2 linked regions of the Homo sapiens genome follow. The protein of the gene in region 1 interacts with the protein of each later gene in a biochemical or structural test. Each region holds a gene or a part of one and is shown in the gene's direction. Other genes may lie near its edges.

What was found. The genes of interacting proteins can lie anywhere in the genome.
Region 2: the proteins of ARHGAP4 (region 1) and ROBO1 interact in a biophysical measurement, tested with the Homo sapiens proteins (one study listed by IntAct).

Annotation. Positions count from the first base shown.
Region 1 is NC_000023.11:153,909,253-153,916,276, reverse strand, and holds part of ARHGAP4 (rho GTPase-activating protein 4), read left to right. Parts: intron 1-2,397; coding exon 2,398-2,499; intron 2,500-2,676; coding exon 2,677-2,868; intron 2,869-2,974; coding exon 2,975-3,059; intron 3,060-3,225; coding exon 3,226-3,253; intron 3,254-3,474; coding exon 3,475-3,577; intron 3,578-5,087; coding exon 5,088-5,148; intron 5,149-5,277; coding exon 5,278-5,355; intron 5,356-5,442; coding exon 5,443-5,577; intron 5,578-5,665; coding exon 5,666-5,771; intron 5,772-5,872; coding exon 5,873-6,106; intron 6,107-6,191; coding exon 6,192-6,265; intron 6,266-6,352; coding exon 6,353-6,536; intron 6,537-6,741; coding exon 6,742-6,834; intron 6,835-7,024. UniProt on the Homo sapiens protein: Inhibitory effect on stress fiber organization. May down-regulate Rho-like GTPase in hematopoietic cells.
Region 2 is NC_000003.12:79,764,992-79,772,903, reverse strand, and holds the start of ROBO1 (roundabout homolog 1 isoform a precursor), read left to right. Parts: upstream 1-4,905; 5' UTR 4,906-5,152; exon of another isoform or gene 5,153-5,443; intron 5,444-7,912. UniProt on the Homo sapiens protein: Receptor for SLIT1 and SLIT2 that mediates cellular responses to molecular guidance cues in cellular migration, including axonal navigation at the ventral midline of the neural tube and projection of axons to different regions during neuronal development.

The DNA of each region.
Region 1 (7,024 bases):
CTTCTGGAAGCAGGGTAATTGTATGATTGGATGTCTTGATTAATCTTATCTAGAAAGAGACAGTGATGGAGGCTGAAGTGATGCAAGGAAGTGACAGTCACTTACATTAGCCAGGATGGAGGGATGATTTTGTGGCTCGGAAGAAGTTCTTGATTTTGTCCTCACTCATGCGTGATCGCAGAGTGGTCTTGTTTCTGTCTTCGCCCATCAAGGTCACACAGTGGCCTTGCCTGATGTTGATGCTCTGGGTCATTTCCGGTGTTCAGCAGGACAGCACTGAGGCCGGGCTGATAGGACCAGGCCAGCTTCCGATGGTGGGGCTGCTGTGTTCTCTCATCTTCCTCATCTGGGACCAGTGTCCCTGAGTCCAAAATCCCTGCTATATCCTTTCCAGAGAGCAAATTGTTAGTTTTCTGCTGATCGTGTGAGTTTAGAGGAGGGATAAAATTTCAATGTTCCCCAGAGTATGCATACACTTATTTTTTCTCTAGAGAGAGGGTCTGGCTCTGTTGTCCAGGCTGGAGTACAGTGGTGTGATCATAGCTCACTGCAGCCTCCAACTCCTGGGCTCAAGCCATCCTCCTGCCTGAGCCTCCTCCTGAGTAGCTGGGACTATAGGTGCATGCCACCATGCGTGGCTAAGATTTGTACTTTAAAAACAATTATTTTTAACCTACTTATTTATTTATTTATTTTGAGACCAGGTTATGAGACAGGGTAATTTTTGTATTTTTGGTAGAGTCAGGGTTTTACCATATTGCCAAGGCTGGTCTCAAACTCCTGGGCTCAAGTGATCCACCCGCCTCGGCCTCCCAAAGTGCTGGGATTGCAGGTGTGAGCCAGTCCAGCCTAGATGGACTTTTAAAAAAAGGTGTGGCAGAATACACATAGCATAAAACATACCACGTTCACCATTTGTAAGTGTGCGGCCCAGGGGCAGAAGCACATTCACGGTGCTGTGCAGCCATCACCACCATCCAGCCGCAGAACTTGTTCATCTTCCCAAACTGAAGCTCTGGCCCCGTTCAACCCCAACTCCCCACCCCCCAGCCCTGGCACCCACCCTTCCACTGTCCGTCTCTACAGAGTTCACGGCTCTCCTTTGAGGCCCCTCACAGGAGTGGAATCCTACAGTGCGGGCCTTTCTGTGACTGGCTCCTTTCACTGAGTCCCATGTCCTCAAGGGTCAGCCATGTTGGAGCCCATCTCAAAATGGCCTTACTTTCTACTCTGTGACTTGCGCCTTCATGCAGTCCTGTACGGCGGGGCTTGGTGGAGATGGAGAGCAGGGCAAGTGTTTAGCCACAGCTGAATCCTCACTCTCAATTTTAACTGTAATGTCAATTTTCTAGATGTCTACATGCTTAAAAGAGTAATTCCTTCCTTTCTAAAGCGTTGGCTCCCACTCTGCCCATGAGGCAAGCTGCTCTCATCTTGCCACAGGGAAATTTATGTCTGCCCAGTTACAGTGAGCAGTTTTTCCGTCCACTCCTTTCCCTGGAAGAGGTGGGGCTGGGCTCTCCCTGTTCTGTCTCAGACCCCAGTCTTCCTTACCATTCTATTTCATTTTATTTTATTTTGAGATGGCGTCTCGCTCTGTCGCCCAGGCTGGAGTGCAATGGCTCCATCTTGGCTCACTGCAACCTCCGCCTCCCGGGTTCAAGCGATTCCCCTGCCTCAGCCTCCCAAGTAGCTGGGACTACAGGCGCATGCCACCGTGCCCAGTTAATTTTTTGTATTTTTAGCGGAGACAGGGTTTCACCGTGTTGGCCAGGCTGGTCTCCAACTCCTGAGTTCAGATAATCCATCCGCCTCAGCCTCCCAAAGTGCTTGGATTAGAGGCGTGAGCCACTGCGCCGGGCCACCATTCTGTTTTAAATAGAGTTTTATTAAGGTACGATTCATATACCATAAAATTCAGCACTGTAAAGTGTACAATTTGGTGGTTGTGCAGCCATCACCATGTAATTCCAGAACATTTTTGTCACCCCTAAAGGAGCCACTACTCCCCGTTCTCCTCTCCAGCCCCACTGGCACCCCACTGCTCCAGCTGGCACCCACTCTGCTTCCTGTCTCTATGGATTTGCCTGGCTGGACACTTCACATAAGTGGATTCATTCCTTCTCGTGGCTGAATCCTCTTCCATTCTGTGGGTAGACCGCGCTGAGTTTAGCCATCCGTCAGTTGGATGAGTGGTGCCGCCACGAACCTCTGTGGACAAGTCTTGGTTTGGACACGTGTGTTCACTCCTGCCATTCTTCAGCTGAGCGTCTGGGCTGGTGGTCCTGTGCCCGGCCGCCAGGCCACAAAAGGGTGCTTGCTTCCCTTATGCCCCGGGGATCTTGGCACCTACTGCCCAAGCCCAGCCCTTAGCCCCCTGGCCGCCGCCCTCTGCAGGTGGCTGAGATCTGCGTTGAAATGGAGCTGCGGGACGAGATTCTGCCCAGAGCCCAGAACATCCAGAGCCGCCTGGACCGACAGACCATTGAGACAGAGGAGGTCTGGGCAGCCCACCGGGGGTTAGAGGGAGACGAGGGCCTGGAGCCTGTACAGCCTGCTGTTGGAAGTGGCTGCCCTGCCTGCCCCCCTCCCTTTGGCCCCTTCCTTCTGACTTGGACTTCCTGTCTCCCTCCCTGTCCCCCACCTCTTACCACCCTGGTGTGGTCTCCTCTGCAGGTGAACAAGACTCTGAAGGCGACACTGCAGGCCCTGCTGGAGGTGGTGGCCTCGGATGACGGGGATGTGCTTGATTCCTTCCAGACCAGCCCCTCCACCGAGTCCCTCAAGTCCACCAGCTCAGACCCAGGCAGCCGGCAGGCGGGCCGGAGGCGCGGCCAGCAGCAGGAGACCGAAACCTTCTACCTCACGGTGGGGAGGGCTGGGCTGGTGGGCGGGACCCGTGGGGGCATTGCTGGGGCAGAGGGAGGGGCTCAAGCCAGGGCTAACACTTGGGGCTCTTCTTGGGGCTGCCCAGAAGCTCCAGGAGTATCTGAGTGGACGGAGCATCCTCGCCAAGCTGCAGGCCAAGCACGAGAAGCTGCAGGAGGCCCTTCAGCGAGGTGGGCCCAGTGCTGCCCCCTTCCCCGCCTCTCCCCTGCCCAGGACCCTGTCTAGCCCACGGTCCTCCCCTCCCGCCTGTCCTTGGCTCTTATCCACACCTTTCTCTCTGGGATGCCTTGAAGACCCCTGGCCCGAGAGGCAGACCAATGTTCTCCCACCCCACAGGTGACAAGGAGGAGCAGGAGGTGTCTTGGTGAGTCCTCCCTGAGGGCTGGGGCCCTGCGACGGTCCGCCATCTCTTCTCTTCCTGGGGCCCAGCTCAGCTGCCCAATCCCCTGGGCCTCACTTCCCCAGTTTTCGCACTGGATTGTGGAATAACTTCAGAGAATTAGAGGCCGGCTTGGCTGGCCTGGGGGGTGGGGCACCCTATTCTCCACACCTGGCCCCCTCAGAGCCAGCTCCCATTCACTGCAGGACCCAGTACACACAGAGAAAATTCCAGAAGAGCCGCCAGCCCCGCCCCAGCTCCCAGTATAACCAGAGACTCTTTGGGGGAGACATGGAGAAGTTTATCCAGGTACTAGCTTTGCCCCACATGCCAGCCCACCTGTACATGCTGATCTTTCTTCAGCTCTGGGTCACCTCAGTGGCCGGAGCAGCTGCCTGATCCCAGGGTCCTCCACTCTCAATCAGTCATCAACTGTCCTTTTCTGGGTGGGCCTCTTCCAGGCCACTGTTGGGCTCCCCTATAGCCTCCGCTGATTGAAGGGAGCATCCTTAACTAGTAATGGGAACGTATAGAAAACCTGGGGCAGCGGCATTTTTAGGGGCGAGATATTGAGAGCTTCTCCCCTGCGACTTCTGGCCAGCATGGTACTGGGGGTCCTGGACAGTGAAATAAGGGGAAGCAAGAAAGATCAGAAAACTAATACTGAGATCAGAAAGCATCAGAGGGGGCCAGGCACGGTGGCTCACACCTGTAATCCCAGCTCTTTGGGAGGCTGAGGTGGGCAGATCCCTTCAGCCCAGGTGTTCGAGACCAGCCTGGGCAACATGGTGAAACCCCGTCTCTACTAAAAATACAAAAATTAGCCAGGCATGGTGGCACGTGCCTGTAATCCCAGTGAAAGAAAGAAAGAGAGAGAGAGAGAGGGAAGGAAAGAAGGAAGGAAGGAAAAGAGAGAGAAAGAAAAGAAAAGAAGCAAGCAAGCATCAGAGAGGGCCAGGCATGGAGAATACCAGAAGATCAGAACTGATATCGTCATTTTCAGTGATGTGGTTATGCGTGTAGCATATTCAAAAGAATCAACAGATTCTTTAAACGAGCACTTTGAGTTTCTTTCTTTTTTTTTTTTTTTTTATTTGTTGAGACTGGTTCTTGCACTGTTGCCCAGGCTGGAGTGCAGTGGCACGATCTCAGCTCCCTGCAACCTTCACCTCCCACCTGCTGGGGTTCAAGCGATTCTCATGCCTCAGCCTCCCAAGTAGCTGTGTGCACCATCACACCTGGCTAATTTTTATATTTTTAGTAGAGGTGAGGTTTCACCGTGTTGGTCAGGTTGGTCTCGAACTTCTGACCTCAGGTGATCCTCCTCCCTTGGCCTCCCAAAGTGCTGGGATTACAGGCATGAGCCACCACACCCAGCTTGAGTTTTGAAATGTTACTTGATTCAAGATTGGTGTACAGAATTCAATTGCATTTGTATATTCCAGCAACAATTTGCAAATACAACGTAAGGCACTGCCTAAAACCTCATCAAAAATATCAGACACCTACGAGTGGATCTAACAAACGGTGTGCTAAGCCTCTGTGCCGACAACGATGATGTGTTCTTCAGAGAAAATAAAAGCACTCAGCCTGGTGCGGTGGCTCATGCCTGTAATCCCACCATTGGGGAGCTTGAGGCAGGAGTATCACTTGAGCCCAGGAAGCTGAGGCTACAGTGAGCCGAGATCACGCCAGTGCACTTCAGCCTGGGTGACAGAGTGAGACCTTGTCTCAAAAAAAAAAAAAAAAAAAAAAAGCAATTGAATGACAACACAGGGCATGCTGTGTCCATGGTGAAGTAAACACCCTCTGTCCCCAGAGCTCAGGCCAGCCTGTGCCCCTGGTGGTGGAGAGCTGCATTCGCTTCATCAACCTCAATGGTAAGCAGGACCCAGCCCCTCCCGATGTCCTGGCACCCAGCACCCAGTTCCCAGCACCTGGCATGGGAGGCCATCCTGGAGGGGCTGGGGAAGATGCTCAGTGCCCACCAGCTCCTTGTCCTCCCACAGGCCTGCAGCATGAAGGCATCTTCCGGGTATCGGGTGCCCAGCTCCGGGTCTCAGAGATCCGTGATGCCTTCGAGAGAGGTGGGGACGGGCAGGGCGGGCGGGGGTGGGGGCTCGGGCAGATGTCACCAGCTTCCTCCCCCTACCGCACCACTCGCCCATCTGCAGGGGAGGACCCACTGGTGGAGGGCTGCACTGCCCATGACCTGGACTCGGTGGCCGGGGTGCTGAAGCTCTACTTCCGGAGCCTGGAGCCCCCACTCTTCCCCCCAGACCTGTTCGGCGAGCTGCTGGCTTCTTCGGGTGAGGCTGGGGCCTGAGGCTGGCGGGGTAGGGCACTTGCTGGGGCAGCCCCGCTCACGCGGCTCTCTCTGGGCGGCTTTGGCCACAGAGCTGGAGGCCACAGCGGAGAGGGTGGAGCACGTGAGCCGCCTGCTGTGGCGGCTGCCCGCGCCGGTGCTGGTGGTTCTGCGCTACCTCTTCACCTTCCTCAACCAGTGAGTGCTGCGGGGCGAGTGCTGGGGTGGGGGCCAGGGGTCGAGGGGACAGGGGGACTCGGGGTGCGGGCTCTCTGCTTGTGATGTGCGTGTCCCCCCAGCCTGGCCCAGTACAGCGATGAGAACATGATGGACCCCTACAACCTGGCCGTGTGCTTCGGGCCCACGCTGCTACCGGTGCCCGCTGGGCAGGACCCGGTGGCGCTGCAGGGCCGGGTGAACCAGCTGGTGCAGACGCTCATAGTGCAGCCCGATCGGGTCTTCCCGCCCCTGACCTCGCTGCCTGGCCCCGTCTACGAGAAGTGCATGGCACCGCCTTCCGCCAGCTGCCTGGGGTACACCCTTGGTGCTGCCGAGGGGACTGGGGGGTCCACTGGAGAAGAGCCCCCCTCATCTGCCTCGCTCTGCCCTGAACCTCAGGGACGCCCAGCTGGAGAGCCTGGGGGCGGACAATGAGCCGGAGCTGGAAGCCGAGATGCCCGCACAGGAGGATGGTGAGGGCGATGGGCAGAGAGCCCCACCCTGTCCCCACCCTAGTGTCCACACCCCCTCCCACAGCTTGGACCCCCTCTCCTCCCCAGACCTGGAGGGGGTCGTGGAGGCTGTGGCCTGCTTTGCCTACACGGGCCGCACAGCCCAGGAGCTGAGCTTCCGGCGGGGGGACGTACTGCGGCTGCACGAGAGGGCCTCGAGCGACTGGTGGCGGGGGGAGCACAACGGCATGCGGGGCCTCATCCCCCACAAGTATATCACGCTGCCCGCCGGGTGAGTGAGCCGCGCCCTCAGGCCCCAGGGCTCCCGGAGTCTCCCCTTCATCCACCCCTCCCCCGACCCCAAGTTAGATTCTGAAGGTCTGGGCTGGGCCAGAGAACAGAGCCTCTCTGACCACTCCTGGCTGGCGCGGAGCTGCTGGCCCTGGACCCCGTGCAGGGAAGGAGCACTCGAAACAGGCCGGTCCTTCCCACCGCAGGACGGAGAAGCAGGTGGTGGGCGCAGGGCTGCAGACTGCAGGGGAGTCTGGGAGCAGTCCCGAGGGCCTCCTGGCATCGGAGCTGGTCCACCGGTGAGCAAGAAGACGGGGCTCAGGGGGCCACACGTGTGCTGTTCTAGGCCAGAGGGGACTGGGGTCAGGCTTTGGCCAGTGGGAGTGGGAGGAGTTGGCAGATGAGGACGTGACAGAATGACCCAGCTTGTGACAGGGAGAGGCTCTAGAGGAGCTTGGGGACCACTGGGCCAGCCTCCTTTCCTTGGCC
Region 2 (7,912 bases), on another chromosome or scaffold:
ACATTGGGCATAAGACAATATGAGGGGTGGTCTCCTCCCTTAACTGAATGAGTAAGTGATTCATAACTTTAATGTTAGCTTTTGAAGTTGGTCCAGGACAAAAGCAAATAACGGAATATGATTAAATTTAGCTACCTAAGAATTATGGTATACGAATAAAAATATAGTTTAAAATTATTTCTGTCTTATTATGCTTTATAAGCAAGTCTTTGGGAGTCTTTAAAAGAGATCAAATGAATAGCCTTTAAATACATTAAAGTTTGGTTAGATTTCCTTCTAAATAGTGTAAACAGTTGTGTCTTTTGAAGGGCAAACCATGAAATCTGACCATTAACTTTCATATAACATACAGAAAATTGTTGTTCAGCTCTTAATTAGTGGAGTAATGGTGGCATAATATTGTATATATGTATATTTATATTCATTTATTTGCTCTAATTCAAAATTTATCTGACATTTTACATAGGTTTAAATTTTTTGTCTGTTTTCACAAAAGTATGTGGAGCTTTTATTCCCAGATTTCTTAGGACAATAGGTAGAAATCTTAAGAACTTCCTGTTCAAATTTAAAATTATCTATTAACATTTTCTCTAATCTGGAAAGTCTATAGTAGATGCCAACCCTATTTCGTGTTTGTGTTGTTTTGCCAAAGTATTTTACTTCCACACTTTTATTGTCAACTTTTATCTTGTTTGCTTTATAATCTTGTTTGCTTTATAATCTTGTTAATAGTAGAAAATATCCTCTTCTAGCCTCTTTCTTTGCAAATTTTTATTGGAATTTTAATATGAGCATTCCATTTATGGTGATCATCTTAACCAAATCACTGTGCCATGAAGTTCTCATCCCTTCCACTTAATGTCAAGTTTAATTGACCTTTTTGAAGTTCTATCTTTCTTCTCAAACGTATCATCTTATATAGATATTTTTAACACTTGAGCTGTACTTTCTTCACCTACTTTAGCAATTCATACAGATTAGTTTTGAGCCATGTATTTAGATGTGGTGTCTTGCAACATATATATACACATATGTGCATATATATGTGTATATGTACAGATGTGTATACATGCGTATATATACAGATGTGTATATATGTGCATATGTGCATATATACAGATGTGTATATATGTGCATGTATACATGTGTGTATATGTGCATGTATACATGTGTGTATATGTTGCATGTATACGTGTGTATATGTGCATGTATACATATGTGTGTATATGTGCATGTATACATATGTGTACATATGTATATGTGTATATATATATGTATATTTACGTATATGTGTATACATGTGTATATATACGTATGTGTATACATGTGACTATATACGTATATGTGTATATATGTGTATATATGCGTATATGTGTATGCATGTGTATATATGAGTATATGTGTATGCGTGTGTATATATGCGTATATGTGTATACATGTGTATATGTGTGTATATATGTGTATATGTGTATATATGTGTATATGTGTGTATATAAGTGTGTATATACATATATGCGTATATGTGTGTATATACATATATGCGTATATATGTGTGTATGTACATATATGCGTATATATGTGTGTATGTACATATGTGTGTATATGTGTGTATGTACATATGTGTATATGTGTGTATGTACACATATGTGTATATATGTGTATGTACATATATGTGTATATGTGTGTATGTACATATATGTGTATATGTGTGTGTACATATATGTGTATATGTGTGTGTACATATATGTGTATATATGTGTGTATATATACATATATGTGTGTATATATGTGTATATATACATATATATGTGTGTATATATATATTGCTGTTTAGTACTGATTTACACTTTTAAAGATGCCTGTTTAGCTGTTAACATTCTTTATATTTCTGCTTTCAGAATATAATTTATATGTCTGGTAGTTTTCCTTTTCATCTGTCAAAATCAAGCATGGATAAATATTCTATTTAAAGAGACACATAGATCAATGCCTGTGGCTTTGAAATTTTTTAAACTATACATATTTCAAAATTACTCAAGGCAGAATTTTTTAAATAGCTTGGATAGTAGCTGAATGTCATTATATTTCATTAAGTTTTATCAAGTGGCATGCTATTGCGTGTTTACCCACCTAAATTTAGAAAGGAAGCTGATTGTAGTAATGACAGACAGGGATATGCCATGTATGTTTTGCTTTCCAACTTTTATAGATGTTCACAGTAACCACAATAAGGCATTGTCATCATGATCCAAGGACATAATGGATATCAGTTTCTGACATAGCATATATTGTCCTTGAAAATTGCACTGACAAAATGAGGGGTCCAACAATACTTCAAATAATAAAGAATAGATCAAGGATATTCCTACAGATCTAGGATATATGAAAACTATTGTGGTTCTAATATCCTTCTTTAAAATATGTTTTGCCTTAGTATCCAAGAAGTAAGGAAAATATATTTGCAACATTTACAACTATATATTTATTTTATATATATATATATATATATATATATATATATATATATATACATCTCATATGGTAATAATTTGGATAAACAAGTAATTTATTGAAGAGATGTAGAAAACTTTTTTAAAAAAATAGTAAGTTAAACTTAAGTTTCTGTTTAGCTTGCTATATTTTTACATCAGTCTTTTATATAGAAAGTAAAAACTTATCAAGAGATTATATAATAAATTTGTTATTAGGTCAGTTTTGGTTTATTTATTTTCTTCTGTTCACTATTATATGTGTCCACTATCAAACTTCCCCATTTAATTATGGTCATAGATAAGCTGCATTGATTTTGTATAAAATCTGTCAGCTTGTGTAAAACACATCTTTTCTCAGTTCTAAAATGATACACATTAAATGCAGAACTTTCAACTTGTAGTTGGGTTGCAAATGATTTTTTTCAGATCCCCTTGTAGAAAGAAGTTGAAACACCAATAATTTACTTGTTTTAGAAATAAGATGAATGTCAGTCATCTTTATTCAACTTTGCATGGTCATTATGCTTTTCTTACTATATGAAATAATAGCTTTTCTTTTCTTTTACAGATTAAAAAAAAGTCCTTTATACCCTTATACTGAATATTGCAACACTTTGGTATTTTCATTTTAACTCTATTGTAAATGGAGAAATTATTAACCTGAAGTAAAGTGATTGAAGTAACCCTGAATAAAAGTTATTCAAAAGCTATTTCAGTGACACAATAGCAATGGATATATACAGCAAATTGACTCTGATACAATGCCAATGATCACATCTTTTCACTCTGAATTAGTGATCATGGATATTTTTAAAAATATGTGTTTGGTGCAAACTTTGCAAATACACATAAAAATACTGGATTTTCTAATCCCTGAAAGAAACTCTCTTCTTTCACCTCTCAGTCGTGTAAGAGTTAACTCTGTTTCCTACAAGGATGCAATCTGTAAGTTAGGTCTGGAAGGCAGCAAAGGCAACCTGGACTTGAAGTTAACACTTCTGTTGTCAAGGGTTACTGATTGGGGGAAGGGAAGGGGCTGTAAAGGGAAAGAGTTACGGAAATGAAGAGGGATTGTAGCACACACTACATAAATTCAAATGCTTTACATGTATTTGGAATAAGATCTCGAGTCTGTTGTATTTTTGCATTGTGTTTTCATTTATTTAGTTTACACATAGGTAGTGAATTTATAGGTTGGTTGATGTTAACCTTATCCAGAGTGGCCCTTTCCAACAATGTTCATTCAGTTGTACATTACATATATGTAATAATTTTGTAATTAAATTGGAATTTATCACAATTATTTACATCAAAGACAATAAAATTATGTTACTTCCTAAATTATAATATCAGTAAATATCGTATCTAGGATTTTGTGGAAAGTCTATGTCATTTTAGTTTAAATAAGGATTTCTCTTTTCCTCCACAAAATTAAAGGTCAAAGAAAACAGCATGTTTAAGACTTCAAATTAATATATATTAAGATTCAGCATTTAATATTCTAATTCTTAAAATAACTGGCTTTACCGATGATGAACTAAAGTGATTTTGCACACTATTACAATATTTCAAATTGCTAGTCACCACAGGTCGGCCTCACTTTAAATCTCCTTGTTATGCCAATTTGCATTACTAATGAACTTGCTAAGAGAGAAACTGTAAAAAGATAATGTAGCAATTAATAGTAAATGCTTGACATACTGTGACATTATAATACCTTTATGTTGATTTATATCTTTATGTCAATATTTACAAGGAAAATATTTTTGAATTTCTAATTTTGCGAAGTAAAAATGATGCTGACGCCATTGTCATTGATGGAATTTTTTCTGTAGCATTTGACTAATATAACCCGTGTTTTATAATTGGTAGACTCATATTTTAGCTTCTACTATCTACTACCCATGTAAGGTATTTTATTTGTAGTAGCTATGAATTGTAAATACAATTGGGTGTTGTGTGTACCTACGTGAAGTGCAGAAGTATTTGATTATATAAAATTTCCTGGATTTATATGAGAATAATGCATAATAGAGAGCAAAAGAGGGTTTTCCTGCCAAAAGTGTCTGTGTGAATTTTCCTTCGAAAATGTTCTTTTAAAATCCTTTGTATGATCAAAGCCACTCCACACAGACAATTAAAAGCAGCTATGGAATGATAGATCACATGACAGGAGTTAAATGTAAGGGTTTTTTTTTTTTTTTTTCCTCCCCCCTCGGTTAAACATCGCAGCAGGCATTACAATACCAGAGGTAACGAATCAATTAAATCCATTTTCCCCTCGGCGTCTCCAAAGCTGCGTGCCTAGTGTTGCTGTGTAGTTTAGACCGGAGCAGTAGGACCCAGGGGCCTCCGCAGCCACCAATAGAAGCGCACACTTGGACCTATTTGTATGCAATGCCTTCTGCTCTGCGCATTAATAGTAATACAGATAACGGGTTTGAAAGAATTCTCTACTGAAGAAGGATTGAATTTTTCCAGGGTGCTGATACAGAGAAGAAACCCGACTTCACTCTCTCCCTATTTCCCCACTCTTAGGTTTAAAAGTCTGTCACCTTTCGCTTGGTTTAAACTCGGAAAGGTCTCAGTGCACAGCAAAGTTGCAGGGCTGCGTCTGCACTACGGAGCCTCTAGATTGCTGAAAACAGTCTTATGGAAGGGTAAGTCTCGGAAATGGTTGCAAGGGAAGTGACAGCTGGCTTTTGATTTGTAAAAGGGGACACGCTGGGTTTTACACTAGTGGTTGTTGGAGTGCAGAATGGTTGCCGAGAGGACTCTGCAGTTTATCCAGAAATTGTGGCTGATGCGCCAGGGTGTTTTGGGGTAGAATCAAAAACCTTCAGGCTAAATCGGAAATTGCAGCCTTGCGATCGGGAGGGATTCAACAAGTTTTCCTGCAGGGATGCGATGTTTGTTTCTTCCTTGCCAGTTGTGCAGAGTGTCCGTTCCAGGTAGGCTGCGGCTGCTTAACAAAGAAGTTTTGGAATTTGTTTGTTGTGTGTGTGGCTGGGCTAACCCTTGTTGGAGTAGGTTTCGTGCCGCTTTTGGCTTCTTGGGGGCACACAGCGGAATTTGCTCTAGGGATGCGGCGAGCATCAGCGGTGTAGTGGGCTGGGGCCGGGCAACTTTGCAGCCTAATCTCAGTGCCGCTGACCGCACCGTTGTTCGTGATGTGAGCTGACTGAGGCATAGACACGGGCAGGCTGCAGGGAGCTTCCAAACTTTGAAAGCATTCTCCAGGAATGGATGCGCGTGGGGGCTTTGAAAATAAGCGTTACTAGGTGGATTTTGGTAAACTCTTGGCGGTATGTAGGCAGTGGGGACTTTTGACACTTGCATTTCCAACCTGCAGGATTTTGCTTGAAAACATGGTGCTGATGTGAAGACGAGAGCTTAAAGCTAAGCCAGCGGGGACTTTGAGGGAGGAAATGAGGGAGGGAAGGAGGAAGAATGAGAGAAGACAGATGAATGAAAAAGGTGCGTCCCATCTTTCACACACAAAAACCACACGAGTGGGACGAACCAGGAAGCGCTCCAGTTGGTGGCGTTTAGCTGGAAAACGTATTGCAGGGAGGTCCAGGAGCCTCTGCATTATTGATGAAACGCCGTGCCCTTCTGGGGCCCCTTCTTGCTCCTTCTCCCTGCCCCATCTTGCCAGCCCCGCTTCCATGAGCCTTCGGTTCCAGCGTTGGCGCGGGTGCGGCTGCGCGCGCGGCTGGGTCCCACAGCTCTGAGAACACAATGGGGAGAAGCAGGCGAGCCCTGCGGGCGGCCGATGCGGAAAACTCGGCGTGGCAACCCCACTGCTGCAGCCTGGGCTGCCGCTCCACCCGGGGCAGCGGCGCTGCAGAGACGGCTTCTGCCCAGTTGCCACGCGCCCTGAGGTCTCGGAGGACCGCGTGGAGGGCGCTCACACCTGGCCGCTAAAATCCTGGGATACCCTTCTAGGAGTCACTGTGTCCCACGCAGATGGGTGGGGTGGGGGAGACGGAATGCTAAGACATCCCACTCCTGCCTCGAGTCGGAGCTCCCACTACTCAAATATCCTTAGTGTGCACCCCAAGCATCTAGAGGACCTGCGCCCCCAAGAAAAAAGGACACGAAGGGGGAAAGAAGGGAAATGTTGATGAGGCTGCAAGAGGGGAAGGAAAACAAGCAATTTAGGGCAATTATGGTCAATGGTCAGGCTTTTCTGGGCTCTTTTAAGTGGATTGATTTAGAGGAGCTTTGAAATGCTGTCCCTGGCCTGTCTGCGGCACTAAAGGGGGCAGATTTCCAGACGCAGGAACTCACTGGAGGCTCCTTCTATAGATGAAGGGAGGAAAGGGCAGGGCAGGAGGCTCATTTCACAGGGTAGTTTAACCCTGACCTCAGCACCTCCCACCCTTTCACGCCCCGCCAAGGAGTGCCCCGACCTTGTAAACTCCTCTGTGTCATCTGCCCTGTGTAAGTGATTTTCATCAAGCTGTGTGTTACAGAGGCCTGTTAAGAGATGGTTGTCTGTTTCCAAGTAGTGGTGGGAGGTTGTTTAATTTGGAGGTTGCTTGTCAACCCGGGCTGAGCGCACAGAGGAAGGAGCGTAGATGCAGGACCCTATAGAATGGGCCACTTGGGGTTGTCAGTTACTTGAAGGCTACACATCAAAGGAAATATACTGATTGAGCACCTGGGGGAAGACAATGCCATTTCATTTTTTCCTCGCTTTCCATGTGCCTCCTTTACTGTGGTTGTTTGGGAACTAGGATATAATAATTACAAAAAAAAGTTGAAAATCCACTGATTTATTTGGAAGCCTCATAACTGGGTTTTCAGGCCCAAACTTGTATTCTCCTAGCAGCTATTATTTTGAAAGCCTCAGTCTGACACCTTAAAACCTGCTTCTCTACTATATCTTGAGGAGGCACTGGTAACTTTCAAAGGCAATCTGTAAGCATGCATCATGTTGATTTTGTTAAAGGGAAGAGGCAGTGTTGGTAGATGTTCCATCAATATTTGCCCTTCCAAAATCGGCCCCCACCCCCCAAAAAAAGGAAGAGGAAGCAGCAGCAGCTCGGAGCAGATATCCAGTTGGTAAGATGACTTTGTTTCTTATGGACCTATACCTCTCCCATGAGGGATAAAAATTAGGATATCTAAGGAGTGGGGGCATTCACCTTATATTGTTGCCACGGTTTTTGGACTTCCTTTAGCCTTTTCGCACATATCTTCCTGCTCCATGCCTCTTCCAATTTAGCCCTGTAGGAGCTGCAGAATTGAAGCACAATGACACAGCTGCAGATCCCTGGTGGAGCCTTGCTTCAGAAAACAGCTGTTAATCACATGTTTGTTGTATTTTCCTATTTACTTCCTTTTACTTCCCTTCGCTTCCCTTAGCCTGTCCTTGAACCAGTGTTACCATCTTCTGGGCTCTACTCTATGAA